Linked DNA regions of Homo sapiens. The protein of the gene in region 1 purifies or fractionates together with the protein of each later gene. This does not show direct contact. Each region holds a gene or a part of one and is shown on either strand. Other genes may lie near its edges.

What was found.
Region 2: the proteins of NAPG (region 1) and STX7 purify together in Homo sapiens (affinity purification with mass spectrometry; 5 studies listed by BioGRID and IntAct, with this or other methods). This does not show direct contact.
Region 3: the proteins of NAPG (region 1) and NSF purify together in Homo sapiens (affinity purification with mass spectrometry; 3 studies listed by BioGRID and IntAct, with this or other methods). This does not show direct contact.
Region 4: the proteins of NAPG (region 1) and STX6 purify together in Homo sapiens (affinity purification with mass spectrometry; 3 studies listed by BioGRID and IntAct, with this or other methods). This does not show direct contact.

What each region holds. Positions count from the first base shown.
Region 1 is NC_000018.10:10,542,999-10,550,026, forward strand, and holds part of NAPG (gamma-soluble NSF attachment protein), read left to right. Parts: intron 1-3,327; coding exon 3,328-3,406; intron 3,407-5,300; coding exon 5,301-5,380; intron 5,381-5,968; coding exon 5,969-6,098; intron 6,099-7,028. UniProt on the Homo sapiens protein: Required for vesicular transport between the endoplasmic reticulum and the Golgi apparatus.
Region 2 is NC_000006.12:132,503,103-132,510,130, reverse strand, and holds part of STX7 (syntaxin-7), read left to right. Parts: intron 1-6,542; 5' UTR 6,543-6,600; coding exon 6,601-6,685; intron 6,686-7,028. UniProt on the Homo sapiens protein: May be involved in protein trafficking from the plasma membrane to the early endosome (EE) as well as in homotypic fusion of endocytic organelles. Mediates the endocytic trafficking from early endosomes to late endosomes and lysosomes.
Region 3 is NC_000017.11:46,691,642-46,698,669, forward strand, and holds part of NSF (vesicle-fusing ATPase), read left to right. Parts: intron 1-1,261; coding exon 1,262-1,427; intron 1,428-2,205; coding exon 2,206-2,280; intron 2,281-2,833; coding exon 2,834-3,021; intron 3,022-7,028.
Region 4 is NC_000001.11:180,984,868-180,991,895, reverse strand, and holds part of STX6 (syntaxin-6), read left to right. Parts: intron 1-1,786; coding exon 1,787-1,912; intron 1,913-3,550; coding exon 3,551-3,657; intron 3,658-7,028. UniProt on the Homo sapiens protein: SNARE promoting movement of transport vesicles to target membranes. Targets endosomes to the trans-Golgi network, and may therefore function in retrograde trafficking.

The DNA.
Region 1 (7,028 bases):
AATGGTGAAACTCCTTCTCTACTAAAAATACAAAAAGTAGCCGGGTGTGATGACGCACACCTATAATCCCAGCTACTCGGGAGGCTGGAGAATCGCTTGAACCCAGGAGGCACAGGTTGCAGTGAGACTCCCATCTCAAAAAAAAAAAAAAAGAAAAGAAAAGAAAAAAAGACCTTTCCAGCAAGTTGATCATGACCTTGTGCCTCTGAGAGAAGGTCTATGCCTCTGAGACAAGGTGTGTGGTCTCAGTGAACCCAAATCCCTCCTAGAAGACTCACTTAGCAAAGAAAAGAGCTGCTTCTCACCAGTTGTCTGAGACAGTCACTAGATCCTAAACACAAGGAGGGTTGGGTGTGTATATGTTCAGGGGTGGGATGTGTGCTATTAAGGAGAATCACTGGGTTTCTGTCTTGCATAACTGTTCTGTCCATGGTGCCATCAATAACTGAGATAAGGAATATAGAAACAAACTTATCAGTGATGATAATAAACTTAGCTGGGAATATGACACATAAACTAAACATTTCTGTAGGTAGTTAAAAATAGGTTTTGGAGTTCAGGAAATAGTTGGGGCCAGAGGAACAGTTTGAGTTGTGGTGTAGAAGGTGTCTGTTGAAAGCTTGGGGATGAATGAGGTTCTGTGACAGTTTTCTGCCATTTGCACATAACTTCTGTGGGGTTTCAATTTTGTTACATTTGGGGAAGATAAAAACAATTTATTCTTTTTTCAGCAAAACCAAATTCTTGTCATTTTGTTAGGAATATTAAGTATTACCTGATGGAAAAGTTGAAAGCATCTGTGTTTCATTATAATAAGTAACTAATACTTTTCTGGATACATTTAAAAATAGATGGCTTTGTATGCTAATTTCATGGCCTTTTAGCAAAGTCGATCAACTTTTTCGACTACAAACTCATGTAAGGGCTTGGCTCTTTTGTTAGGTAACTATATATTAGCACATAGAAATGCTAATATTATGTCAAGGAAATAAACAGTTTATGCGTAAAGAATGCACCCTTTATAGTTAAATATATGAAAAGTTTAAAATACTGAGATTGCTAATAGAATGATATAATCTAGACACGACGGGCACAGAATATTCTGACCATAATTTATTTTATAAAACAGGATCTGTTATAAGCTCAGGGTCACAATTATAAATGATACAGATACATGTAGCTGTAGTCCGCCTTGCATTAATTTTTTATTTCTGCATAGCAGATTGCTACAAACTTAGCAGCTTAAAACAGTACTCACTGATTAGCTCACAGTTTCATGAGGCCAGAAGTCTGGATACAGTGTAGCTAGGTCCTAGTGTAGCTAGGTAGCAGAGCTAGGGTCTCACCAGGCCGAAATGAAGGTGTCGGAGGGGGCTGATCTCACCGGAGGCTTGGGTCCTTTTCCAAGCTCATTGATTGTTGGCAGAATTGATTTCCTTGCAGCTGTGTGGAAGAGATTCCTGTTTTCTTGTTGCCTGTTCGCCAGGAACTGCTCTCAGCTTTGAGTTTGCCTTCAGTTCCTGGCCGTGTGCCCCCATTGGTGGTTCACAGCATGGCAGTTTGCTGCTAATTCGAGACATCAGGAGTACTCTGGCCTCTAACTTAAGGAAGGGCCCACCTGATTAAGTCAGGCCCACACAGACAGTGATTCACTCGAAGTCAGCTGATTTGTGTCCTAATCACAGGATGGCCCATCATATTCCGAGGGTCACACCTACACTTAAAGGGGGATTATAGAGGAAATGTTTACAAGGGGCAAGAATCGGGAGCACTCTTAGAATTCTGCTACCAAACCCAGCTTATAAATTGACTTTGTTCCAAAAATTTATCAAGTTGACCTGTGGAAATTCAGAATGCATTTCTCCTATGAGTGTCATTTTATAAGGCACTAAGTTGCCAGCGTGCATCCCATAAAGATTCAGTTTAACTCATGATGTAAGTAGCCATAATAGCATAAGCCAAGCCACTGTGTGTGTGGTGTGTGTGTGTGTCTGTGTATACATGCCACTATTTTTAAAAAGATAACATACAGGCTGGGTGCGGTGGCTCACGTCTATAATCCCAGCACTTTGGGGGGCTGAGGCAGGTGGATCCCCTGAGGTCAGGAGTTCGAGACCAGCCTGGCCAACATAGCGAAACCCCATCTCTATTAAAAATACAGAAATTAGCTGGGCGTGGTGGTGGGCGCCTGTAATCCCAGCTACTCGGGAGGCTGAGGCAAGAGAATCACTTGAACCCGGGAGGCAGAGGTTGCGGTGAGCCGAGATGTCGCCACTGCACTCCAGCCTGGGCAACAGAGTGAGACTCCGTCTCAAAAAAAAATAAAAAGACAGAAAAATAGAGCATATAGCATAACAAGCATAACATTTTTGTATTTTTACTTTGGTTTACAATACCACTTACCTCCCTTTGAATCCCGATAGTACAGACTCTTGCCCCTTTTGGCTGTTGGTTGTGTGTATTCCCAATGCCCAGACCCTGGTAGTTTCTCCCATAACCGTGGACTGTTATTGGGATGAGAGCAGTGGCTAAAGACTGTACATTTCACTCAGTCTCAAGTTGTACTACTGAGGGAGTCCTGGCATTTGGAGTATACTACAGCTTTGCAGGGAGGGGAGGTTCAATTAGGGTTTGATGGAATTAGGGCTGGGGGAATGAGAAAGGGGTAAGGGCCTGGAGGGTTTGGGGGAAATGTTTTGGTGACCCCTTTCCTTGCTTTCGTCTTCATTCTGCCATTGGGCAAAATGGAAGAAAAGGAGAATGTATGAGGGTCAATGGAAAAGATGAATGTTGAAGACTGAAGATGCAGGAAGGCTTTTGTTTAGGTCTCTAACTTGCCTCCCCTCTGCTGCCCTTTTAGGCACCTCAGAGCTTGCTAGGGCCACTGGGGCAGCAGCGGAGTATGTGATGGAGGGACACAGTCGGGGGAAGGCACCGAGTGCCTTGGGTGTCTGGATGTTCTTTCAGTCGGGAGGAAAGAAATCTTGGGTGATTTAATCGAAGATCGTCTCAAGTACGTATCACGAAGAAGTCGTGACACTCGCTATTGGACAGTCCTTACTAAGCTTAAAACTCCCCGTTTGACCTAACCCATCCTTGAGTTCTTTTGCTTTTTCTGTCAGCGTGCAGCCTGAAAGTGGGGAGTCAGACATTTGAAAGGTAAGCCAGATGAGCAGAGCATGTGGAAACCTGGGTCCTGGGGCAGCTGCTAATAATACCTGTCCTCCTGGTGTCTCTACAATCTATGATGTCAAGTACATTTCACAGGGGACCTCTGCTATAGATCATTTAGACCTGCTTTTTTTACATTTCTGTGTTTTGTTTTAGGTTTGATGAGGCGGCACTCTCTATTCAGAAAGAAAAAAATATTTATAAGGAAATTGAGAATTATCCAACTTGTTATAAGGTATTCTTTGAAAGTGTTTGTTTTTGGTATTACATTAGATGATTTTTTATACTGGTATGAATAAGTACTTAAGAAAGGATTCTATGGGTATTTCTATGTTTTTGTAAAATAATACTTCATGGGCCTCTATTTTTGACCAAGATAGAGTAAGCCCACTACAGCTTGTTTCTCTGCTGATTACAGCTAAACTACTGGATAAAATACAAAAGCAACCACCCTTGAACTCTGAAAAGTAAATAAAAAGAGACTAAGGAGAGGAGCAAACACGTGGAGAAACAACCACCATGGGAATGAGTTTCTCGGGTTTTTTTCCATTTCCTCTTGCAGCATTCATTGCCCTGCCCTGAGAGAAGCCCACAGTTGTGGAGCTGGGCAGCAAAGGCTGCAACAATGAAAACTCCAAAAGAAACCCCGCCTTTCTAACCAGCAATGGGAGAAGAGGTCCCATTGTTTTCCTCTCCTTTGGCTTTGCTCCAAGCTTGTCCCAGGCATGGAGCTACACTGTGATGATGGCTCAGGTTGATAAAACTCCACAAGGACCCCAGTCTCTTTTGCCAGAGGAACTAGGAAAATGAGCTAGAGAGCAAGGAGAAAATTCCGGAAAGGAGAGAGCTGGAAACGGAGTCCCCTGAGTGTGGATGTGGCCCACACAAGTCTTGGGTTTACTCTTCAGCTGTGCTGAGACAGGCCTCAAAGTAGCAGTGCAGCGCAAAGCTTGGAGAGCTAAGATTTCATCACTGTCGAAGTGTTGCACTGCCCTCTGAAGGGCTTATGCATGGAACAGGCCCAAAGCCACATAGCAAAGGATTTGAATTAAGTGTAGAACTTCCATCCACCAAAAACAAGGCACCACATGTAGTCTGAACCTAACTGGGGTGATTACCTGCTGAAAACATCTGTACTCTCCTGAAAATTAAGCAGAGGCTGTGCAGCATCACATTCACAGTACAATCCAGAATTACTCAACATGCAAGAACCTGGAAATATGACCAGTTTTCAGGAGAAAAGACAACTGATGGCAACCCGGCAGTGACCAGGGTTGTTGGCATTATCACATAAAGACTGAAGCAACTATAAGTTGCTCCATGAGGTAAAGATAAACACAATTAAAATGAATAGAAAAGAGGACCTGTTGTTTTTTATAGGAAAAATTATTTTTATAGAAACTATAAAAATGAACTAATTGGGAATTTTAGGACTGGCAAATACATTATTGAAGTAAAATAATTGGATAAGCTTAATCTCAGAGATGACAGAAGGAAGACTTTGTGAACTTAAAGATAGATCAGTAAAAGTTACCTAAACAATAGAGACACCAAAAGATGGAAAAATACTTCATGAAGACCTATTTTTCCAGTAATTTATCAGTCATATCCTTGATCTTATTACTACTTTTATTGTTGACTTATCAATACTATCATTGTTTCTGTTATCTGAAGTTTTCACTCATACATCTTTTTCCTAGTTTCTTTTTAAGGATTCTAAGTATCATTGTGGTGTTACGGGTCCCCCCCACTTCTTTTTTATTCACTTTTCAAGATTGAATCTGTGTAGATATTTGAAAGAGATCTCTTTAAAACGTGGTTGTGATCTAAGGCTTGTGTCAAAGTGCGGTCCCCAGACCAGCAGCAGGAGTGCCCCCTGGAATTTGTTAGAAATGGGTGAATCCCAGGCTTGCCCCTAGCAGCCAAATTCCAGGACATGAGAATTGGAAAAGTACTGTTCTAGGATATTTCCCCTCAGGTGTCCCGTGGAAGTTACTATAGCATTTATAAATCTCTGTTTATACAAACAAAGACTCTGAAAGTTAAACTCCAGGTGTTTTCAATACTGCCAGGTTATTGACTTTATTAAACAGATGTAAATTTGACCATGATCCTCTCTTTTGTTTTAGAAAACAATTGCTCAAGTCTTAGTTCATCTACACAGAAATGACTATGTAGCTGCAGAAAGATGTGTCCGGGAGAGCTATAGGTAAGACGTTGTCTGGGCCCTCTTGACTTGCAGTGGCGACACCTCTGTGTCTACAACTAAGATTGCTGCTAGGACACATGTTCCTGGCCATGAAACTGTCATTTCTAAATCTTAGGAGTGCTCATCTACCATTTCATCTTTTACAGTGGGTGTTTTACACCTTTTTTTTTTTTCCCTTTCCTGTATTTTTCTCTAGGGGACCTCCATGGAAGTGAATGACTTTAGTCATTTTAGTCATTTTATTTGCCTTCTAAGAAAAAAAGAACAAGAAAAAGGGGGAAAAAATTATCAGATTTATGTTACAGAAATCAAAATGAGGAATTTTCTCGGTGTTTAACATGAGCAGTCTTAATCTCAACACTGTTAACATTTGGGCTGGATAATTCTTTGTGGTCGGGCCTGTCCTGTGCACTGTAGGCTGGTTAGCGGGATCCCCGGTCTCTGCCCTCTAGATGCCACTAGCATTCCCACACTTTTAAGTACCAAAATGTCTCCAGACAGTGTCACATGCCAGGGGCAGAATCATCCCTGCCTGAGATGTGTTCTTTTAAGGAGAAGGTGAAGACGTGTGATTTGTGCTTACTGCAGCATCCCTGGGTTCAATGGCAGTGAAGACTGTGCTGCCCTGGAACAGCTTCTTGAAGGTTATGACCAGCAAGACCAAGATCAGGTGTCAGATGTCTGCAACTCACCGCTTTTCAAGTACATGGACAATGATGTAAGTGGACCCATTTGCATAGCTTTCATCTTTTCTCTTGAAAGAAAGAGGTTTCTAGTGAGATTATTTTTTACCCATGTACTTAAGAGATTTTTTCCTACCTCTTTTTTTCTTCTCAAGCTACTACTCATAAGGAAACTGACCACTTGCATTGAATTTCACCATAGATTTAGATAAAATAGATGTTAGTTGTGTGGTGTATAGCCATTTACTCACCCATCTAACTCTGTTGACCATATACATATTTTAAAATTGAGGCTCATTTCTCCACTTTTCCTCTATCTGTTGTCCTCTGTAGGTTGCTTTTATTCATTTCTTTTAGACGGACTCTCTGAAAGAGGTCCATTCTGTAGTGGCCTTTGTAATTCAGTAGACCTATGAAAATCTGTGAGGACTAGCTGTGTGTTGCAGGTCATTAATTATCTCTAAGCCTCAGTTAATTCATTTGTAAAAATGAAGCCACTAGTACCTGTCTTGCTGGACTGTTGTGAAGAATACATTAGTCAGTGTGTGAGAAATATCCTCACATGATGTCTTGCACATAAAGTGAACCATGACTATAAGTTTTTATTTTTTCTCATTTGTCTTTTTCAGTAGATTTGTAAGTACCTGTTTGGCCTTAGGCCTTTAGAGTATCATCATAGTATCAGATCAACTTAAGGCCTTCAGTTGTTTATTATAATGATATATGTAGATAATTTTTTTTCTAAATAACGTCTTACATAGGTTTTGAAAATATATATATTTCTAAAGTTTTAATTAAAAAAAATTTATAATTGAAACTTTTACTAGTTGTGTACCTGTCCCACCATGGTCATGAGGCATCTGGGGAGCAGCATTGTTGGGCTTTGTTTTTCCATCTGAATGGTAGAATTGGTGTTCCTGAGGGTGGGGAGCCAGGCTGTGTCTTTTTAGAGCTGAGTAAAACAT
Region 2 (7,028 bases), on another chromosome or scaffold:
CTGTATTTTGGTGTTAGTTAACCAACCTTTGGCTATCCCCTTCCCGCCATCCTTCTCTGCTTCTAGTAACCACTATAATTTTAACAGCCCATTTAGTTAGTGGCTAGTCTGTTAGTACAGGTCTAGGTAATGAATTATATAATTATTATTCTGAGCAATTAAATAGGAATTCTGAGTGGGCTTTCAAAAGTATTCAACAAGAGTACTTTAGTGCGTAGCAGCTCTGGGCTAGGTAATGGAGACTGATGTGGAAAGCAGACATCTGAATAACTCAGCATCCATTTAGCCTATATGCAGAGATCATAAGCTTTTAATCAATTTGTAGTTACCTATCCTGTCTGTCTATGCTTGTATATATATTTTTTAAAGACAACCATTTGGTTCCTTTCCTTTGTGTGTCTCATTATCAAAAGAGCCAACTGTTGTTGCCTTTTAGATACCACTTATTAGCAGAATAATAGAGAAAAGGAGTAAGCTATTCCTCTGTGTTACCTTGATCAACTCATGTAGTTATCCCAAACATATTCCTTCATCTTAGGAGTGGGAATAGCAAAACTTCATATGGGGCATGCAGAAAAGTGGTAAATTTGGTTTTTCTTTTGTCTTTTTTTATTTTATGTTATGTTATGTTATGTTATGTTATGTTATGTTATGTTATGTTATGTTATGTTATGTTATTTTGAGACGAGTCTCGCTCTGTCGCCGGGCTGGAGTGCAGTGGCGTGATCTTGGCTCACTGCAACCTCCGCCTCCTGGGTTCAAGCGATTGTCCTGCCTCAGCCTCCTGAGTAGCTGGCACTACAGGCGCATGCCACCACACCCAGTTAATTTTTTTAGTAGAGATGAGATTTCACCATGTTGGCCAGGATGGTCTCAATCTCTTGACCTTGTCATCTGCCTGTCTTGGCCTTCCAAAGTTCCGGGATTACAGGCGTGAGCCACCGCGCCCAGCCCAAATTTGGTTTTTCTAACTGAGTTCACCTGCCCTCAATTTTGTTATACAAGGAAGCAGTATGGCTTAGTGTTTAAAAAATGTCGGCTCTGTGGTTATTTTCAAATATTTGCTCCTTTGCTTATAATGATAATGAGGCATAATGATATGCCTCAGTTTCTTCATGTAAAAAAATCACATTAGCAATTATACCCACATGATAGGCTTATAAGAATTAACTGAGAAAATAAATTTAAAAGTCATAAGCACAATGCTTAGGAAATGTAAGTCCTGGATGAGTGTTGGCCATTGTTAACTTTGTTTTATTTTACACATCTTTCTTCTCTATCTTTTGCAAATTGCTTTTCATTCTTCACACATGATTCCTGGCTAGATACAGTGGCTCAAACCTGTAATCCCAGCACTTTGGGAGGCTGAGACTGGAGGATCGCATGAGCCCAGGAGTTCAAGACCAGTCTGGGCAACAAAGTGAGACCCCCATCTCTATAAAAAAATCAAAAAATTAGTGGGATGTGGTGGCAGGTGCCTGTGGACCCAGCTACTCGGGATGCTGAGATGGGAGGATTGCCTGAGCCTGGAAGTCAGGGCTGCAGTGAGTCGTAATCACACCACTGCACTCCAGCCTGGGTGCTCCTGTCTCAAACAACAACAACGCCAAACAAAGAAAAAGTAAAACAAAACTCATAATTCCAGTCAATCTAAGTAGCACCTCTTTGGGTGAATGAAGCCACTTGCCAATTGTCTCACCAGCAGGAACTTTCTCACATTTAGTAGCTTGAGGAAAGGGATGAAGAAAATTGATTGTGTTTGTGACTAAGTGATTGATTTTCCAGAGAGGAAAAAAGGTGGCCTTGAAAGAAAACAGTGAGAAGACTTGGGCTACACTGGTGTGAGTTTTAAGGGTAAGGAAAATGCTGTAGAATACTGTCCTTGACTTGATGGAACTCTTTATGGGAGAGAGAGTAGGCCTCAGGTGTGCTTGCATGGTTTTGAGACAGGTGATGAGTTTCTCTTGGTCTTGTGCTGATGCTGGTCCTGCAGCTGCAAGAACAGATCATAACTTTCCTCTGTGTAGGGTGGAAAAGCATTTGTTCTCTGGATGTGCATTATCTCATTTTGATTCTGGCAGTGGGCCCAAATGCTAAGTGTCTTGCCCAAAGTAGAAATTTCCAGTTGCTACTTCCATGGTGTGCCGCACAGGCAATGGCTGAGTTCTTGTAGCTTCACAGACATGTAGACACGAGAGAAAGCCAAGGGTACGAGCTGGAGACATGGATGTGCGACTCATTCAGGTATAGATTAAAATGGAACCATGTATATGGAGGAGCATCCCCAGAGATTACATGAATAACAAACTGAACATTTTTTCATTCAATGTGTTTGTTTTGGCTTGTAAGCCAGTTTTTCCAGAGATCTACTTGATAGAGGGAAAGGAGAAAGGAAGATGTCATTGAACCAAGAGAAAATTGTCTTTCTCCATACCTTGGAATATTATTTGGCAATAATGAAGGAATATTATTTGGCAATAATGAAGGAATGAAGGACTGATATATGATACAGCACAGATGGACTTTGGAAGCATACTAAGAGAAAGAAGCTAGTCTCGAAGAACACATTGTATGATTCCATTCCTATGAAATGTCCAGAATAGCAAAGCTATAAAGATACAAAGTAGATTAGTAGTCACCTTTGGCCAGTGAGGTTGGGGAGAAATGGAGAGCGATTGCTAATGATTACAAACTTTCCTTTTAGCGTAATAGAAATGTTCTAAAAGTGATGATTGTACAATGTTGTAAATATATTAAAAACCATTGGCTTGTGTACTTCAAGTAGGTGTATTGTATTGCCATATCTCAATAAATTATATCTCAATAAAGCCATTTTATTTATATAAATTTAAGGGGTGCACATGCAGTTTTGTTACATGGTTATATTGCATAGCGTGAAGTCTGGGCTTTTAGTGTAATCATCACCTGAATAATGTACATTGTACGCATTAAGTAATTTCTCATCCCTCACCCTCCCATCCTTTTGAGTCTCCAATGTCTTCTTATTCCACTCTCTGTCCATGTGTACACATTATTTAGGTTCCACTTACAAGTGAGAACATGCAGCATTTGACTTTTTTCTGAGTCATTTCACTTAAGATAATGGCCTCCAGTTCATCTGTGTTGCTGTGAAAGACATAACTTCAGTCTTTTTTAAGGTTGAATAGTATTCCATTGCATTTATATACACTACATTTTCTTTATCCATTCAGGAATGTTAATAGACACTTGATGGGCACTTAGGTTAATTCCAAATCTTTGTTCTTGTGAATATTGCTACAATAGACATATGAGTGCAGATTATCTTTTTGGTATAATGGTTTTTTTTTTCTTTTGGGTAGATACCCAGTAACGAGGTTACTGGATCAAATATTAATTCTATTTTTAGTTCTTTGATGACTTGCCATGCTGTTTTCTGTAGAGGTTGTACTACTTTACAGTCTCACCAACAGTGTGTGTGTTCCTGTTTCTCTGCATTCTTGCCAACATCTGTACTTGTTTGACTTTTTTTCTTTTTTTTCCGTTCAAGATGTGTTTGTGGATGAATTTTTAATAGCCATTCTGACTGTTGTGAGATGATGTCTCATTGTGGTATTAATTTGCATTTATCTGGTGCTTACTGATGTTAAACATTTTTCATGTGCTTCTTGGCCATTTGTATGTCTTCTTTTGAAAAATGTCTATTCATGTGCTTTGCCCCCTTTTTAATGGGGTTATTTGTGGGGTTTTTTGTTGAGTTGTTTGAGTTTCTTGTAAATTCTGGATATTAATCTCGTTGGATGTGTAGTTTGCAGATATTTTTCTCCCATTCTGCAGGTTGTCTGTTCATTCTGTTTATTATTTCTTTTGCTGTGCAAAAGCTTTTTAGTTTAATTAAATCTCATTTTGTCTGTTTTTTGTCTTGTTGCCTGTGCTTTTGAGGTCTTAGTCATAAATTCTTTTCCTAAACCAATGTCCAGAAGAGTTTTCCCTATATTTTCTTTTAGTATTTTAATCGTTTTAGGTATTACTTTTAAGTCTTTAATCCATCTTGAGTCGATTTTTTTTTTTATATGTTGACAGATAAGGGTCCAGTTTCACTCTTCCGCATGGGGCGATCCAATTTTCCCAGCACCATGTATTGAAAAGGGCGTCCTTTCCTCAGTGTATGTTTTTGTCAACTTTGTCAAAAAGATCAATTGACTGTAGATATGTGACTTTACTTCTGACTTCTCTATTCCATTCCATTGTTCTATGTGTCTGTTTTTATATGAATATCATGCTGTTTTAGTTACTATACCCTTTTAGTATAATTTGAGGTCAGGCAATGAGATGCCTCCAGCTTTGTTCTTTTTCTTAAAATTGCTTTGGCTATTCAAAACCTGTGTTTTTTTTTTTTTTTTTTTTTTTTTAAGTGACTTGGAGATGCATTTAAAATTGCATGGTTTCAAGGATGTTCCGGATGGTGTTGGTGTCATTGAATCCCCATGTCTACTCTTGTTCTGTCTGGGCCCAAGTCCAAGGCTACCTGGAAGGAAGTTTATTCCTGTCTCCCCACTGTAGTGGTCCAGCTGTCTGACTTTAGGTTTGAATTTACCCTTTAATGAAATTGCTTTTGGATCCATCTCTAGGATTTGGTGAGACCCAGAGAGCCCAGAATAGATCAGCTGTACCTGAGAGGGAAGTTGGAGAATATCTAAAAGCCACCAGGACTTTCAGCGTGGCCAGGCACATTCAAAGTGCACCAGAGTTCCAGGCATAGAACCAGTACTGTTCTAATGGTCTCAACAGTTCAGCTGTTGTACTTCCTGCCAACACTGTCCCTTAGAGCAAAGACACATACTTCACTGTGGCTTCTTCTCTACCAGAAATCTTCTGTGGCATTAGTTCTATGTGGTAGCAAGCATGGATAGCCTTGGCATCAGAACCCTGGGACTGAATCTCACCTCCACCTGTGGGTGGGTTGGGTTACCATTACTTAATCATAATAAGCCCGCTGTTTGCTCATCATTAAAACAAGAATAATGCCACTTAATTGAAGGAGGTTGTGAAAAAATTAGTCTGTGAAATACTTTTTGTGTCGCAGATGTGCGAGAAATGTTAGGCCATTCCTCTCTTTCCCTTTATGTTGTTTTCCCCTTGTCCCAGCTGTGAATCATCTGATCCAGGGTTGGCCAGGAACCTTCCCTTCCTTTTGTAAATACCATACTGCATGTGGCCTTTCCACGTGCTCTGGGTCTCTCCACCCCAGCCTTCACGTCCTTGCCTTTGTTGTTCTGCATACTGGTCATAACCAAGCATCCAAATCCTATGTTTCTATTTCATAAATTCTTTCCAGACAAGGATGATGGTCATTTTTTCTTTTTGTAGCCCTTCTCATTTTAGCCTAGCACGTGATCTTTTATGGATTTGTGGGGTTTTTTGTTGGTTTGCATTATTAACTTTATCCTTCCTCCTAAATGACAAACTTGATTTGAGCAGATACTGTGTCAGTGTGTTTTGTTTTGTTTGCATCTCCCAGGTGCTTAGTTTAATGCTGGGCATGTACCAGGCTCTTAGTAGAGAGCTAGCTTACAAATTGACCACCAACAATTTTGCAGTATTCCAGTGCATATTCATGGAAAAGATGGGGTGGCGGTAGTTGAAATTCTTTGCTGTGCGCAGTTCTGTATGCAGGGACATTCCTTTTCAACCTTCTTTCCAAACCCTGATTGGAGTGGTGTGGATTGAAGAGGTAGAGAATGTCATCTCACCTGCCTCCTGTGGCAGTATCTCAGTGTCTCTTCTATTCTGAGATGCTGGCTGCTGAAAGGGGAGAGTCATTCGTTCTCCTTCCTCTGTCAGGAAGGTTTGATAAACATTTTATATGACATTTGCTTCGCAGTAGTTGGCTCTGCTATTTCAGATTTAACCTTTTCCATTAAAATTAGAGCCCTATTAATCATACATTCCTGAGCAGGTCCTGTGTGTGTGTTAAATTAGATATTAAGGTTGGTACAAAAGTAATTGCCATTTTTACCATTACTTTTAATGGCAAAAACCACAATTAAAAGTAATGGTAAAAACTGCAATTACTTTTGCACAACCTAATACAGTGAAATTTCTGGGGATAGCCTGAAGTCTGTGTTCCATTTAATAAATATTTAAATGCCTGTTTGTGCTAAGAGTTGTTTTAAATATTGGAGAAAGATAAATAAGCATGTGGGCCCTGCCTTATAATTGTTTGGAGTTTAGTTAAGGAAAAAATATGTAAACAACTAAAATTATATACAGGTAAGGGATTTAATAATTTTTCTTGAAGAGATCAAAGACGTTTTCAAAGGAAATATGCAATTTGAACCTTATTTTAATTGTTTGATGTGTTTAACATGACTCTGTCCTTTGAAGTCCAGTTTTTTTTTTTTTAGTAGACATGAGAGTTTTGCTATTTGATGTGTCACTTTGCCAGATTTCAACTCTATTAGATTAATCAAGTTTGTCCTTGTAACTTCACAGATTGTTAATTTGGAAAATGTAAGCCAGTAACTTAAAAAATATATCTGTGTGACTTTTATATTATTTAGGTGACTGCTTAGAAAACTGCACAGCATCTGATGAAATTAGCGAATAAGAACATCAACCATGTCTTACACTCCAGGAGTTGGTGGTGACCCCGCCCAGTTGGCCCAGAGGATCTCTTCTAACATCCAGAAGATCACACAGTGTTGTGAGTTGAGTTTTAAATGGACTTCACTATTTGTATCCACTCTTAACTGAACTTGGTGGAGGTTCATAAAAGGACAACTCTGCTGATTGAGAGAGGGAGGAGCATTCCTCTAACAACAGGTTTTAAAGGGCTCGAACTCTTTAGAATGAATGCAAGAGAATTATATTTGAGATAACACTTACTGCATTTTTCTATAGGAAGTCAGGGCCAGGCACATAATACATTATTTCATTAAATAAAATAAAGATTTAAAAGGATAATGGATTCTTATATCTGCTTTAAAGCTATCTGGTTCTAGATGAGATGATGAGACCTGATGACTCAGTCTCATAGGTTTGGAACC
Region 3 (7,028 bases), on another chromosome or scaffold:
AATGGATACTAACCATATTTAATCCTCAGTCTCATTATGCTCATTTAATTTTTATTATCCGTATGTTGTCATATTTAGGTTATGTTCATTTTTTACCAGTTTTGTTAATCCCTAGTATTTTTTGTTTTTGAGACGGAGTCTCACTCTGTCGCCCAGGCTGGAGTGCAGTGGTGCAGTCTCGGCTCACTGCAACCTCTGCCTCCTGGGTTCAGGTGATTTTCCTGCCTCAGCCTCCAGAGTAGCTGGGATTACAGGCACCTGCCACCACACCCAGCTAATTTTTGTATTTTTAGTAGAGATAGGGTTTCACCATGTTGGCCAGGCTGGTCTCGAACTCCTGACCTAAGTTGATCCATCCTCCTCTGCCTCCCAAAGTGCTGGGATTACAGGCAGGAGCCACCGCACCCGGCCGTGTTTTTTGTTTATAAAAGAAAAAATTTCCAGAGTGCACTTTACTCCCTGATAGGAGACTAAATTACTTAAATATAAATTTTAGAAGGTACGTGTTAAATTAACCTAATGAATTAGTAGCATTCAGAAGTGTTTGTATCTGTTAAAGATTCAAAATATACAAACTAATTTCTTTTAATGGTGATTCTATTTCTAGTAAACTAAGGCAGAAATCATTATGCAGAAGAAACAGCACCCTGTTAACCATGTTCTTTTTATAAACCGTCTCTGTTCTCACTTTATTGTTAGGAAGGCGTAATCTGTTTTCATGTAATATAAGTACATGTGAGTCATGTTGAGTTTCTTCACTCATTTGTCCAATTCCCAGTCAACCTGTAGGTGGAGTTAACCTTTAGTTACATAATATAACGAAACAAACATTAAACCTACTGCTTCTGGGACAGTCTTCTCACCAAAACTCAGGGAAAATGGGAGGGTGTTGCCACTGACTGACTTAATGAAAGTATCTGACAAATGTAAGGTCTTTCAAATAGTGAGATAAGAAATGTATATAAATTATTTGATCGACTACTTACTTTCTATCTATACACACACACTATCAGTATATAATGTGTATTTTCATTTTATAGCTATTAAATATGAGGTTCTAGAATGAGTTTTCAGTTTGCAGAATTCTGAGAATCTAGTTCCAACACCTTTGAGAGGACAACAACCACAATTGCACTTGCCATATTTATTAGTCAAAATGAAGTGAAGTCAATCTGTTGAAAGCTTTGTTTTGTTTTTCTGATTAGTTTGTTTAATAAGACATTCAAATTATGATCTTTAATATAATTTCTTCCCCTAATAGCTTGGTGCTAACAGTGGTTTGCACATCATCATCTTTGATGAAATTGATGCCATCTGCAAGCAGAGAGGGAGCATGGCTGGTAGCACGGGAGTTCATGACACTGTTGTCAACCAGTTGCTGTCCAAAATTGATGGCGTGGAGCAGCTAAACAACATCCTAGTCATTGGTATGTTTACTTTTTAAAAAAGTACTATTCATTCAAAAACGTTAGCCATAAGTTCTGAATTAAGATGTGTGTAGGTTGTGATTAAACTGTTTTGCCAGTGTTTCCAAATTAGAATCCAGTGATATTGAAGAATCTATTGTAATGCCTAGGCTTAATAGGAAAAATAAAAGATGGATTTCAGTCACTTGTAGGTTTAAGCTTATAGCTCACCCACAGGTGAAAAAGATGTAGGTTGAAGCTTATAGCTCACCCAAAAATGAAAAATACACATGAAACAATGGAATGCAGTGGTTTTCAAACTGGGTCTTGCAGGCCTTCGGGGGTCCTCAGAGGTGCTTTCAGGGTCAGTGAGGGCCAGGGAGTGCGTTTCAGATCCTACATCACTATTATAACTTCCTCTTTTAGCTGTTTTATGTACTGAGGTGCTTCTGAAGATGACTTCTGGGGGAAAAAAAAAAAAAACACCCTGCTGTTTTATGAAGTCTGAAAACCACTGGCCTGTAAAAAAGAGAAGGAACTTTGGAGTCAGAGAGATCGTGTCACATTGCCCCTCTGTCACTTTGACAGATTATTTACCCTTTGAATCTTAAATTTTCTTTTTAAATACTGGAAGTTTTCATAACATTTATATTCCATTGGCTTATACAGTAGTGAAATAGTAAAGCAAAGTCTCCTTAGCTTGTTAGGGAAATTACTATTCTTACATATACTAAAAGGACATTTGATTTTATTTTTGAACTCTGATCATTTGTTGTTTTGTTTTAACATCTGTGTTCAGGAATGACCAATAGACCAGATCTGATAGATGAGGCTCTTCTTAGACCTGGAAGACTGGAAGTTAAAATGGAGATAGGTAAGGAGATCTGTCACTGATTGGGTGTGTGGTGGGGGGAGTGGAGGCATTTAGAGTTCATTAACAGGAACAATGTCATATGGTGTAGTATTTTTTAGAAAAGGTTTATATCATGAGAAGTAGATGTTTACATGCTTGAGTACCTATAAGGAAAACATTAGGATCATAATAATCTCCTCTAGGCTGGGCGCAGTGGCTCACACCTGTAATCCCAGCACTTTGGGAGGCTGAGGCAGGTGGATCACTTGAGGCCAGTTGTTCGAGACCAGCCTGGCCAAGATGGTGAAACCCCTTCTCTACTAAAAATACAAAAAACTTAGCCGAGTGTGGTGGTGTGCACCTGTAATTCCAGCTACTCGGAAGGCTGAGATAGGAGAATCGCCTGAATCCAGGAGGCAGAGGTTGCAGTGAGCTGAGATCGTACCACTGCACTCCAGCCTGGGAAACAGAGCGAGACTCTGTCTCAAAATAATAGTAATAATAATAATGATAATCTCCTCTGATGGTGCTTTCGAGACTAGGAAAATGCCTATTTTATTTTTAATTTCATCAGGCTTGCCAGATGAGAAAGGCCGACTACAGATTCTTCACATCCACACAGCAAGAATGAGAGGGCATCAGTTACTCTCTGCTGATGTAGACATTAAAGAACTGGCCGTGGAGACCAAGAATTTCAGTGGTGCTGAATTGGAGGGTCTGGTGCGAGCAGCCCAGTCCACTGCTATGAATAGACACATAAAGGTCAGGAAAATCAGCTAAACAGATTATAAACATTATGCCAGTATTCTTTCTCTTTCCTTTCAAGCATATCAAGGGGTAGGGAAATGCTGACTTTTGGTGGAGAAGAGATGGTAAAAGGAATAAGAATTAATTGTCAACTGCTAAATCTTCAGAGTAGCAGGAAGGAAGATAATGTTTGCATCTGCCCTGTAGTAACCACTGACTCATCTACCTTAGGTCATCACCATCTGACACAGACACGTAAAGTGAAAATTTTGAAGAAGTGTTTTTAAATCTTTGTATTGTATTAAAAGTTGTAATATGGCCAGGCATGGTGGCTCATGCCTGTAATCCCAGCACTTTGGGAGGCTGAGGCGGGCGGATCACAAGGTCAGGAGATCGAGACCATCCTGGCTAACACGGTGAAACCCCGTCTCCACTAAAAATACAAAAAATTAGCCGGGCATGGTGGCGGGCACCTGTAGTCCCGGCTACTCGGGAGGCTGAGGCAAGAGAATGGTGTGAACCCAGGAGGCAGAGCTTGAAGTGAGCTGAGATTGCGCCACTGCACTCCAGCCTGGGTGACAGAGCGAGATTCCGTCTCCAAAAAAAAAAAAAAAGTTGTAATATGTCAGAGGAAGTGGGAGTTTCCACGTACTAGAATTTTGGGGGCTGCTTTATTCAGCAAATATATTGAATAGTTGATGTGTTCAAGCTATTGGGCTGGAGACATAAAGATAATTGTGAACTCTTCCCTCAAGGAGTTCAGAGTCAGGAAAATGGACATATTTTCAAATTAGTACAATAATATTGTAGTTACCATGGTAGAAATACGTACTAGGATACTTTTATTTTGATAAAGTGCTCTTGATCTTCCATCTCTTCTCTCCTTTAGGTTTTAGTTACCACCTGTAGACAGATTTACTGAACATATCTGTCTCCTACTTTCAGATTTGTACTAAATACCCTCACCTAGATGTTTTATCAGGTCTCAGATTTAATATTGCAAAACCAAATTTATTGTCTTTTTTACTACTTTCCTTTCTGCTCGCATTTCCCTGTTTATCCCAATTTCCCAGGCTTAAAACATCAGGATTATCTTTGATTCCTGGCACTCTACTGTGCCCTAGGTCAAGTCACTTGCCAAATTTTTTCAGTTCTGTCTTGGCAGTGCCTTTTAGTTCTCACTGCCACTACCCACCTTCTCTTTGATTAACCTTCCTGTATCATATCATTCAACCATTCAGACACTTTCAGTGATTCCCCATCATTTACAAAACAAAGTACAGGCTTCTTTTGGGTCTTTTGGGTCCTCTAGATCTGACCCTAACTGGCCTTTCCAAATGTGCTCCTGATTATTCTCCACATACTTCAGCCAAACTTAAATAATCACCGGTCATCAGACATTAATTTATTTTTCAACATCTCTGCTTTGGTTTTGTTTTTTTTGCATCACTGAGGATCTTCATCCTCTACGTTTACCTGTCTTTTCAAAACCTGGCTCATATGCTACCACTGTCCTCACACCTTTTCACATTTTCCCTTTCAAGAATGTTATACCCGTTTCCTTCTTGAAATAGTAATGTATCATTTATGGTACTGTCAGTTGACTTTGGTTCACAGTAGATTTATTCGGCATCTACTGCATGCTAGACCCTGTGCTAGGAGTTAATACCCCGACTGCAAAGAAGTAAAGTACCTACCATTAAGCTGCCCTCAGTCTAACCCTCCACGTGCAGTAACAGAAAGTACATGCAAGGCAAGAGAGTGAACTCATGTCAGATATGGTCAACTTGTGGGGTGAGAGAAACCTTCATATGCATGTCTGTTGGTAGAGCAGGGCCTTTTAGGTAGAGGGAACAACATATGCAAAGAAGCAGAGACACAGAATAGCATAGTGCGTTGGAGTAGTTTAGTATTGCTTCAGCATGGAAGTTAGGGGAGGGATGGTAGAGAGATTGTGGGGGATAAGTCAGGAGACTAAAGTAGGGATGGAGCACAAAGAGCCTTTTATACTCTGCTAAGAAGTATGGACTTTTTTTCTGTGAGTAGTGCTAAGCCATTGAGTTTTAAGAATAGCAGTGACATAGTGTTAAAACATAAGATCACTCTGGCAGCTCTGTCGAGTGGAGTAGTTAGAGGAGTGGAGTTGGCGACACAGGACAAGAGGGGGAGCTTTTATAACAGTTCAGGCAAGAAATAAAAGCCTGAACAGTTAGGTTGAGTATGTAGATATTTGGGTATATCCTATCACTGGTTCTAGACCAGGAATCCAGCCAACTACCAGTTTTTATAAATAAAGGGCTTTTTTGGAACAGTACACATTAATTTGTGTACTGTCTATGGCTGCCTGCATGCTACAGTGGCAGAGTTGAGTATTTGCAATAGGGGCTGCATGGCCCACAAAGCCTATTTTAGTGCTTTTATTTTAGGTACTATCTGCCACTTTACAGAAGTTTGCTGGCCCTTGTTCTAGACTTTAAATCCTTATCTTATTCACCTCAGAGTCTCCCATAGTACCCCAGATAGATCTAAATAATGAGCACATGGTAGGTGTCCAGTAAATTATTTTTCTTTTTTTTTTTTTGAAACAGAGTCTTACTCTGTCGCCCAGGCTGGAGTGCAGTGGCACAGTCTTCGCTCACTGCAACCTCTGCCTCCTGGGTTCAAGTGATTCTCCTGCCTCAGCCTCCCAAGTAGCTGGGACTACAGGCATGTGCCACCACGCCCAGCTAATTTTTTGTATCTTTAGTAGAGATGGGTTTTCACCATGTTGGCCAGGCTGGTCTCAAACCCCTGACCTCGTGATCCGCCCGCCTCAGCCTCCCAAAATGTTGGGATTACAGGTGTGAGCCACCATGCCCAGCCAATATTTTTTAAATGAGTAAACTTACGTAACTATTCTGAATCACGCTCTATCCATAAGTCATAATTTCCCTACATAATAGAGGTGGATTTGTTCTAGCTCAAGAATGCCAAAGGTTTGGATGGTGTGGGAATATTGTATTGGGTCTTTATATAATGGATCCATTCAGGGACTATGTTTTTATTCTTCCTTGTTTGTTTGTTTTGAGACGGAGTCTCACTCTGTCGCCCAGGCTGGAGTGCAGTGGTGCAATCTCGGCTCACTGCAAGCTCCACCTTCCAGGTTCAGCCATTCTCCTGCCTCAGCCTCCCAAGTAGCTGGGACTACAGGCACCCACCATCACGCCTGGCTAAGTTTTTGTATTTTTAGTTGAGATGGGATCACCGTGTTAGCCAGGATGGTCTCGATCTCCTGACCTCGTGATCCGCCTGCCTCGGCCTCCCAAAGTTTTGGGATTACAGGCGTGAGCCACCATGCCCGGCCATGCTATACTGTTTTAATAAGAAGAGATGGCAACTTCAAGAAAAATGATGTAAACAGTGTGAAAACTGGTCCCTACCATACTGATCTTTCATCTCAGACCACATGGGTGCATCTTGATGTAATCCACAGTAACTAGTTTACTAGTTGTCATATTTTTCATATGTGTTGGCCATGGAATTTTTCTCTTATTTAGTCATCTGTCATTTTAACTACAATAATCCTATCCCAAAATTTCACTTTAAGCCGTTGTCTCAGTAAGAAACATGCTTTCTTCAAGCATATATTGGGTTTATCTACATATGAGGCAATGAGGGATGGTGGGAAGATCGCAGATATCGTAGTCAGAAGGTGTGGTTATGCATTATATTTCTTCCACCTTTTTGTTTCTGACCTGTCAAGGGGAGACACTACCTATCTAATCAGATTTTTATGAGAATGAAAGCAAATACTTTATATAAAAGTGCCTTGTAAACTCTATAAATGCTAGTTATCTCCATTTTTTTAATTGGCTGATTTGAGAGGATATCAGTACTTTTCAATATATGAATTTCTGATTTTTATTGACTCTTTGTAGTTACACATTTTCTAATTGTAAAGCTAAAATGTTTGTCACCCTTGTACATAATATATTATCCTTCTGATTTGCAAGTAAGCAGTAGTGCAAATAGTTCATGTTTCC
Region 4 (7,028 bases), on another chromosome or scaffold:
ATATATTGCCTATCTAGTTATGGCTTGGAATTTTGTTTTAGGCTATGAGTGAAATGTCAAGTTGCAAATTTTCAAGGAATAGCAGGATCAGGGCTCTCTAAGCACTCCAGCAGGCATGGGCCTTGCCACGTTGTGCCAGGTGCCAGGCTCTGTGCTGCTCCTTGCCTCACCAGCACCCCTGCTCTGGCACCCACACACAGGTGCATCTTCCAGTCCTTGGGCCCTCTCTCAATCTCTATCCTATTATCACAAACATTTGGGATCAGACTGATGAACTTTAAGCTATTTCACAATAAAACGTGGATGATTTGCCCTATACTTAGCTCTACCTAAGTGTACACCATGGAAAACGTAGGAAAAATAGCCCTGTGACCTCAGGAGCACACAAGGCCCTGGTGGTGTCCCAGTTCTCTGTCCTTAGGCCAGTGATGCATTATAGCATTTTTCTGACCCTAAAAAAATTGTCACTATTTCCTCATGTCTTCCATAGAGGTCCTTAGAGTGTGGATCATAATGAGCAGGATCTTTTCAGTCTTGATAGCCCTAAGACCAGGTCAGGGCAGAGCCACCCACAAAAAGCCTTGGATCTGCTTTACACCAGAGACAGTCACCATCCAGCTGGACTGAAGCTCTGGGCCCCTGGAAGCTCTTGTAAGAAAAGCTTCTAATAACTGAGCTTCCCTGATCCTAGCCCCTGAAGTCTGGCCATTTGATGGAGTTCACCCCTCGCAGTCTGAGAAGAGGTCAGTGTCAGTATGGAGGAAGGTCATGGGGCTGTTGGAAGGGTTTTCAGACAGAACCAAGTAACCAGGCAGGCTTTTAATAGTGCCTGAGATTTTTTTTAAATTACCCGATAGGAAAATTTGGCAACTCTACAAGGAAAAAGAGTCTTAGTTGCTAGCGTCTTCTGGCTCTTGCCTGCGGGGCTGGTGTGAGCAGTTACTTTGACCAGTCAGGAAGGCTTGTGGGGATCTGGTCAGAACCAACTGCTGAGATGGAACTCTCACATTCCTGCCTGTCTTCTTCATGTGAGGAAGACATACCCATTTATGGCTGCAAACTTCCTTGAATTCATACTTGGGAAACCCGACCCTTGTGTCTGGGAGCCCTGGTGGAGAACTCTGACTTTAGGGCAGCCCTTGCCTCGGTTGCCAGGGTCAGGCATTCCTTGTGGTCATACCTGCCTGTAAAGTAACCCCCAGTTGTCATCTGGAAAGCCTGAAGGACCCTGGATTCTATTCATGGGTTAAACTTAACAGACATTGATGGTTCTTGTGCCTTTGTGTGTGAAGGGCTATGGCTTACCTTCTTGTCATTCCAGGGAACTCTCCCTTTCCCCCCACCAAAAAAACCCACAACTTCCCCTGGGTCACACTTTTTTTAAAAAAGTACTCTAGATCTTCGGAATCAGGTTGACTGGAACCTATGGGTTGCTGAAGTTCCACAGGTACCAGGAAGAGCTCTTTTACAAGAGATTGAATGCTTTTCAATTATAACACAGTATATAGATGGGTGTTTGTTGATTTAGCAGACGTTTATTTGCACTTTAAGGGGACAAAGCCCATTGTGAGGCCTATTGGGAGAGCTTAAAGACATAGAGGGCCCTTCCTGGAATTCCTTAAATAGTACCACCCAGGCACCAACCTACACCACTACATAAAAGCCTTGCCCAGGGGAAAATAGACAAGAAATGTGAAAACTCTTTATATCACTCTTGATGCATCACTTGTTCAGAGATAGTAATTGTTTGTTTCTCCTGACTCCTCTGGTTGTTCTTCTCACACAGGCACTGCTGGGAGACAGTGGCAGCCAGAACTGGAGCACTGGAACAACAGATAAATATGGGCGTCTGGACCGAGAGCTCCAGAGAGCCAATTCTCATTTCATTGAGGAGCAGCAGGCACAGCAGCAGGTACCCCAAGGACCCCAGACTTAGGACGGGCCAGTGGGAAACAAGACACCCCCTTAGTTCCTTTGCCAGCCATGGGGTCTTGTGGCTTAGTGACAAGGAGGGTAAGCCAGAGCTTGTCCTGTGTTGATTGTGTTTAATAATTGCATATGTAAAGGGTTTCAAAATCTTCACAGTGTGACTGCTTCAAGAGAACCAAGCTCAGCCAGGCGTGGTGGCTCACACCTTTAGTCCTAGCTACTGAGGAGGCTGAGGCTGGAGGATCCTTGAGCCCAGGAGTTCAAGGCTACAGTGAGCTTCGATCATGCCATTGCATTCTAGCCTGGGTGACAGAGCAAGACCCTTTCTCTAAAAAAATAAAGAACCAAGCTCAGTTAGTTCTCTTAGAAAAAACAGACCTTTGTCCATCTCAGCAAAGACACTTTCAGAAAGATCTCTCATTTTTTTCTTCGAAAATTATTGATTGGTTTCTTTTTTTTTTTTTTTTTTGTGAGACGGAGTCTCACTCTGTCACCCAGGCTGGAGTGCAGTGGCACCATCTCGGCTCACGGCAACCTCCGCCTCCCGAGTTCAAGCAGTTCTCCTGCCTCAGCCTCCTGAGTAGCTGGGACTACAGGTGCACGCCACCACGCCCAGCTAATTTTTTTTTTGTATTTTAGTAGAGACGGGGTTTCACCTTGTTTCTCAGGCTGGTCTCGAACTCTTGAGCTCAGGCAATCCACCTGACTCAGCCTCCCAAAGTACTAGGATTACAGGCATGAGCCACCGCGCCCGGCCTATTGGTTGGTTTTGTTATATGTAAAGATGACTGCTTTTGTGTAGGTTAAGGGGTAGAAGGAAAATGAAATTGATTATGTCTGTTGATGCCTTTGATATGTAGCTGTATTAATAAAAGCAAGCTAATGATAATGTGTCTGGGGATTTGAGGAGCATGTACCCATTGAAACTATTGATTCTTAAATATTGTGTTTTATGTATACATGTAGTTTATATGTTCTTTTGTTCTTTACATTAGTATGTCTGCTTAACCAGTTGTCTACTTAAATTGCTATTAAACCCAGGAAATTTTTTTTCTATAGAAAGTGAGAAGAATGCAACACAACTAAAAGTAAATATTTGTCAGTCAGTAGTTGTCCTTGAGGTAACTTATTGCCACAGGGAATCCTTTCGTTTGTCCTTGAAGAGAGAGGAAAGACTGCATAGTTTCCCCACATCCAGAGATTTGCCAGACTCTCTTGTATTTAAGCTGTGGCAGTCTGTTGTGGATTGAGACCTTGATCTTGGCAATGGGCTTCCTCCTCCCAAACATCCCCATGTCTCAATGGTCATCTGCACGTGTGCTTTCAACCATTGTCTGCTCCATTATTGGACGTCAGCCAACCAGAGTAAATCTCTCTTGGTGGTTTCAAGCCCCGCTGACTGTTCACAAGTTGGATCAGCAGGAGATATCAGTAGCTTAACAATCCAGCCTTTTGAGCAGTGTGTTCTCAGAGGCAACGGTCTGGTCCTTTGATTTCTGGGCTTTGCTTCTGAATGTGAATTGTCCCAAGTTGGCAAAGAAACTAGCAGCTGCTAGAGTGCTGGGCTTGGAACCAGGTAAGATGGATTTTAATTGCTTATTTCCCATTTCTCTGGCACCAGTTGATCGTGGAACAGCAGGATGAGCAGTTGGAGCTGGTCTCTGGCAGCATCGGGGTGCTGAAGAACATGTCCCAGCGCATCGGAGGGGAGCTGGAGGAACAGGCAGTGTGAGTATTGAGACACCCCTCTCGCTTCAGTGAAATTGAGGGGCAGAGCCATCCTATGACACCCCTAAAAAGCCTGGCAGCTACGTGGCTGGTAAAATCAAAAGCTATTTTATTCATAGCTGCATTTTTATTCTGTTTTACAGATTAGCCTCCCCAAAAGAAGCAATTCTACTTCGTAAATTTTACTACAGGCTTTAGGTGAAGTTGTTATTATTTTTAAACACCTCCAAAAACAGACACAGATGTCTCTGAGCAGATACTCGAAGTATAGTTATGAATGGGAATATGAAACAGAGAAGCCTCTGTAACCTGTGGGAATTTTTGTTCCAGAGAGGATAGGACATGAGCTGACTTTATCATCCCATGACTCTCCTGCTATATTGAACAGACACGTTTTGCTTTGAATCTTAAATTATTGTAACTTTGTTTTTTTTTTTTAAAAAAAACTTACAAATTTAACGCCAGTTAATAAAAACTCTTTCCTCTCAGAAAAATAAATAAAAACAAAACATAACCTCAGTTTGTTTTTCCTTATGAACAATCCCTTTTGCACCCAGAAGTTCGATGGCAAAAACTGCATTCTTAAATGCTGCCACATCATTTTGTAAATCTTTTGAAAGAGAAAAATGAAAAAACAGTCCACCAGGATATTTCAGAAACTTTCCTGTCTCGATATTACGTTTATCATGACACATTGATTGATTATGAATTCTTAGTGGGCCCGTGTTCTACACCGGGCCTTCTGGAAGCCAAGGGATATAGAAGGGAACAGAGCAGACAAGACAACCCATCTCTGCCAAAGAGTTTGCCGCTTGCAGGGTAGAACGGATATTGGGTAAGTGGCGAGGGGTCATTAGGTGATGGCAGTGAAGTGGGAGGGCCCCTGTGATGGGGCCAGTGCATGCTGCCTGGAGAGCCCTGACTTAGCCCAAGGTCCCTGAGGAAGAGGGGTTTAACTGAAATCTGAAGGATGTGTGGATGCTAGCCAGGTGAGGTGAGAGTTGGTGTGGAGGCAGGTGGTGTGGGGTGTGTAGACCAGGAGGAAGAAAATGCACCTGTGAAGATGGAGAGGTGCACACGTGCATGGAGCAGAGAGGTTCCATGTGTCTGGAGGCAGAGAACAAACCAGGGAAGGCCTTGTCAGCATGGTAAGGAGGTACGACTACTTATTCTCAGCATAATGAGAGACCAGTGGAGGTGAGGTGAGGAGTGATGGTGTGATCAGGTGTGATTTAGATGATGTGCTGCAGTGGAGTCAGGTAGGGAGACCAGGTAGGAAGCTGGAGTAGCCAGAATCTGTTTCATGTCTATCTAAAATGGGTCCTGACCCTAAAGTTCAGTTTGAGGAGGGGAAAGGACTAATGGCCTGAGCTTCTCTGTTGATGAGGCAGCCTGGCTGGGCAGTGGGTAATAGAGTCAGAGGGACTTCCAGTTAAAGATGGTGCATTGACACACCCCTACCTCCACTCCCTCTCCACAGCTCACTAGAACAATAGTAAAGGGGTTTGTTTTTAAGGGCATGAAACCGCTGGGCATGGTGGTTCACACCTGTAGTCCCAAGTACTAGGGAAGGAGGCTGAGGTGGGAGGATTGTTTGAGCCCAGGTGTTTGAGGCTGCAGTGAGCTATGATGGCACCACTGTACTCCAACCTGGGTGACAGAGGAGACCCTGTCTCTAAAAAAATAGAAATAACAGATAAATGGGAAAAAGCATGGGATTTGGACTTAGACCTGTGCCATCCAGTATAATAGCTACTAGCCACATGTGGCTGTTGAGTAAGTGTTATGTGGCCAGTCTGAATTGAGATGTGCTCCAGAGGTAAAATGCTTACTGGATTTTGAAGACTTCATATAGAAAAATATAAAATAGCTTATTAATAATTTTTATATTACATGTTGAAATTACAGTATTTTGGCTATATTAAACTAAATACAACAGAATTAATTTCACCTGTTTCTTTTGAAATTTTTACAAACATGGCTACTAGAAAATGTAAAATGGCATATGTGACTCATATTTTTGTTGGATGGTACTGAGATAGATTTGGGCTAGCAACTTGGTTGGTGAGTGTCCATGGACTGAAGGTCGGATGATGTGCCTGATGATGTGCCTGTTTTGTCTTCAGTATGAAAAGTCATACCTAGCGCAGAAAGGTAGCTCTTGCTTTTTAGAGTTTGGCCCTGCCTGGATAGGCCTGCCAGCTGCAGCGCCAAGATGCTGCCAGGATCTAAAATGAGTTAAATATTTTTTAATTTGAAAATTTAGGTAAGGGACAAAGACTTATTTTAGTTGTCAACATATATGTAACAGTTGATTTAATGAAGAGTTGGTTGCCCTGAATCCTGCAAGGCTGTCAGGTGTCTATTGTGGGCACAGATCAAGACCAGGAGTTTCTAACTGCCATTGATGCTGTCAGAGTTAATACAGCCTTTTTAGTAAGACTGTTAGTACTAATTGGCATATTACATTCTAGCCTCAGAATAATCATTTACTAATCAAAAGTTGAAAAGTCTGGAATATTTAGTGACTTATGAAATAGGCACTGCTGAAATAGTATTTTGGGGTTTTCTTTCCCAGCTGCACATTGGACAGCAAATAGTGTAAGCCTGCTGGAGTCAGTTTTCCTAGTGGGAAATACTGGTTTCTCTGTGAGGACAGATGGGGAAATGCGCGTGTGCATGCACAGACACACTGTCACACACCCCATCAGGGATGTTAGTCCTGAGGCCTTCTGGGTTTATAATAAAGCACGTAGTGCCTTATAGGAGGTTATTTTATTAAAGTACATTCCTTAACTCATATTGACATAAAGTGCTTTTGTTTATTACCTGGTTCTCACAAGAGCCCTGTGAGGGAAGTTGAGCTGATAGGATTGCCCTATTTTACAGGTGAGGAAACAGTCCCAAAGAGTTATAGAGTATGTTGTCGAAGGTAGCAATGTAAACAAGTGGCAAAGCCTGGTTGTCTGCCTCAGATAGCATTGTTTCTACCACATTGCACTGCCACTGAGTTTGTGTTATTGTATAGACAGGTCTATAGTCTTGCAGTTCTGAAATCTAGGAAGCTCTAAAGAAATCTCGTTGTTTTTTTTTTCTTTAAATTTGCCGCAAGCTCATGTTACAGAAAAACCTTACCTGAACTGACTCCAACTGTGATTCCTCATAGTTTTCTCTGCAGAAATATTAAGTATCTGATTACGGGGACTGCCCCAGACCCTCCTGGTGGTGTCCTCCTAGTGGTGTCGACTAATACAAAGGATATGTAATTTAGGCTTTTTTTAATCCTGAGAATTCCAAAATCAAAATCCTATCTTGTCCCAAGGATTTTGGATAACAGAGTGAGGTCCTGAAACCCAGTGTTGCCTATTTTG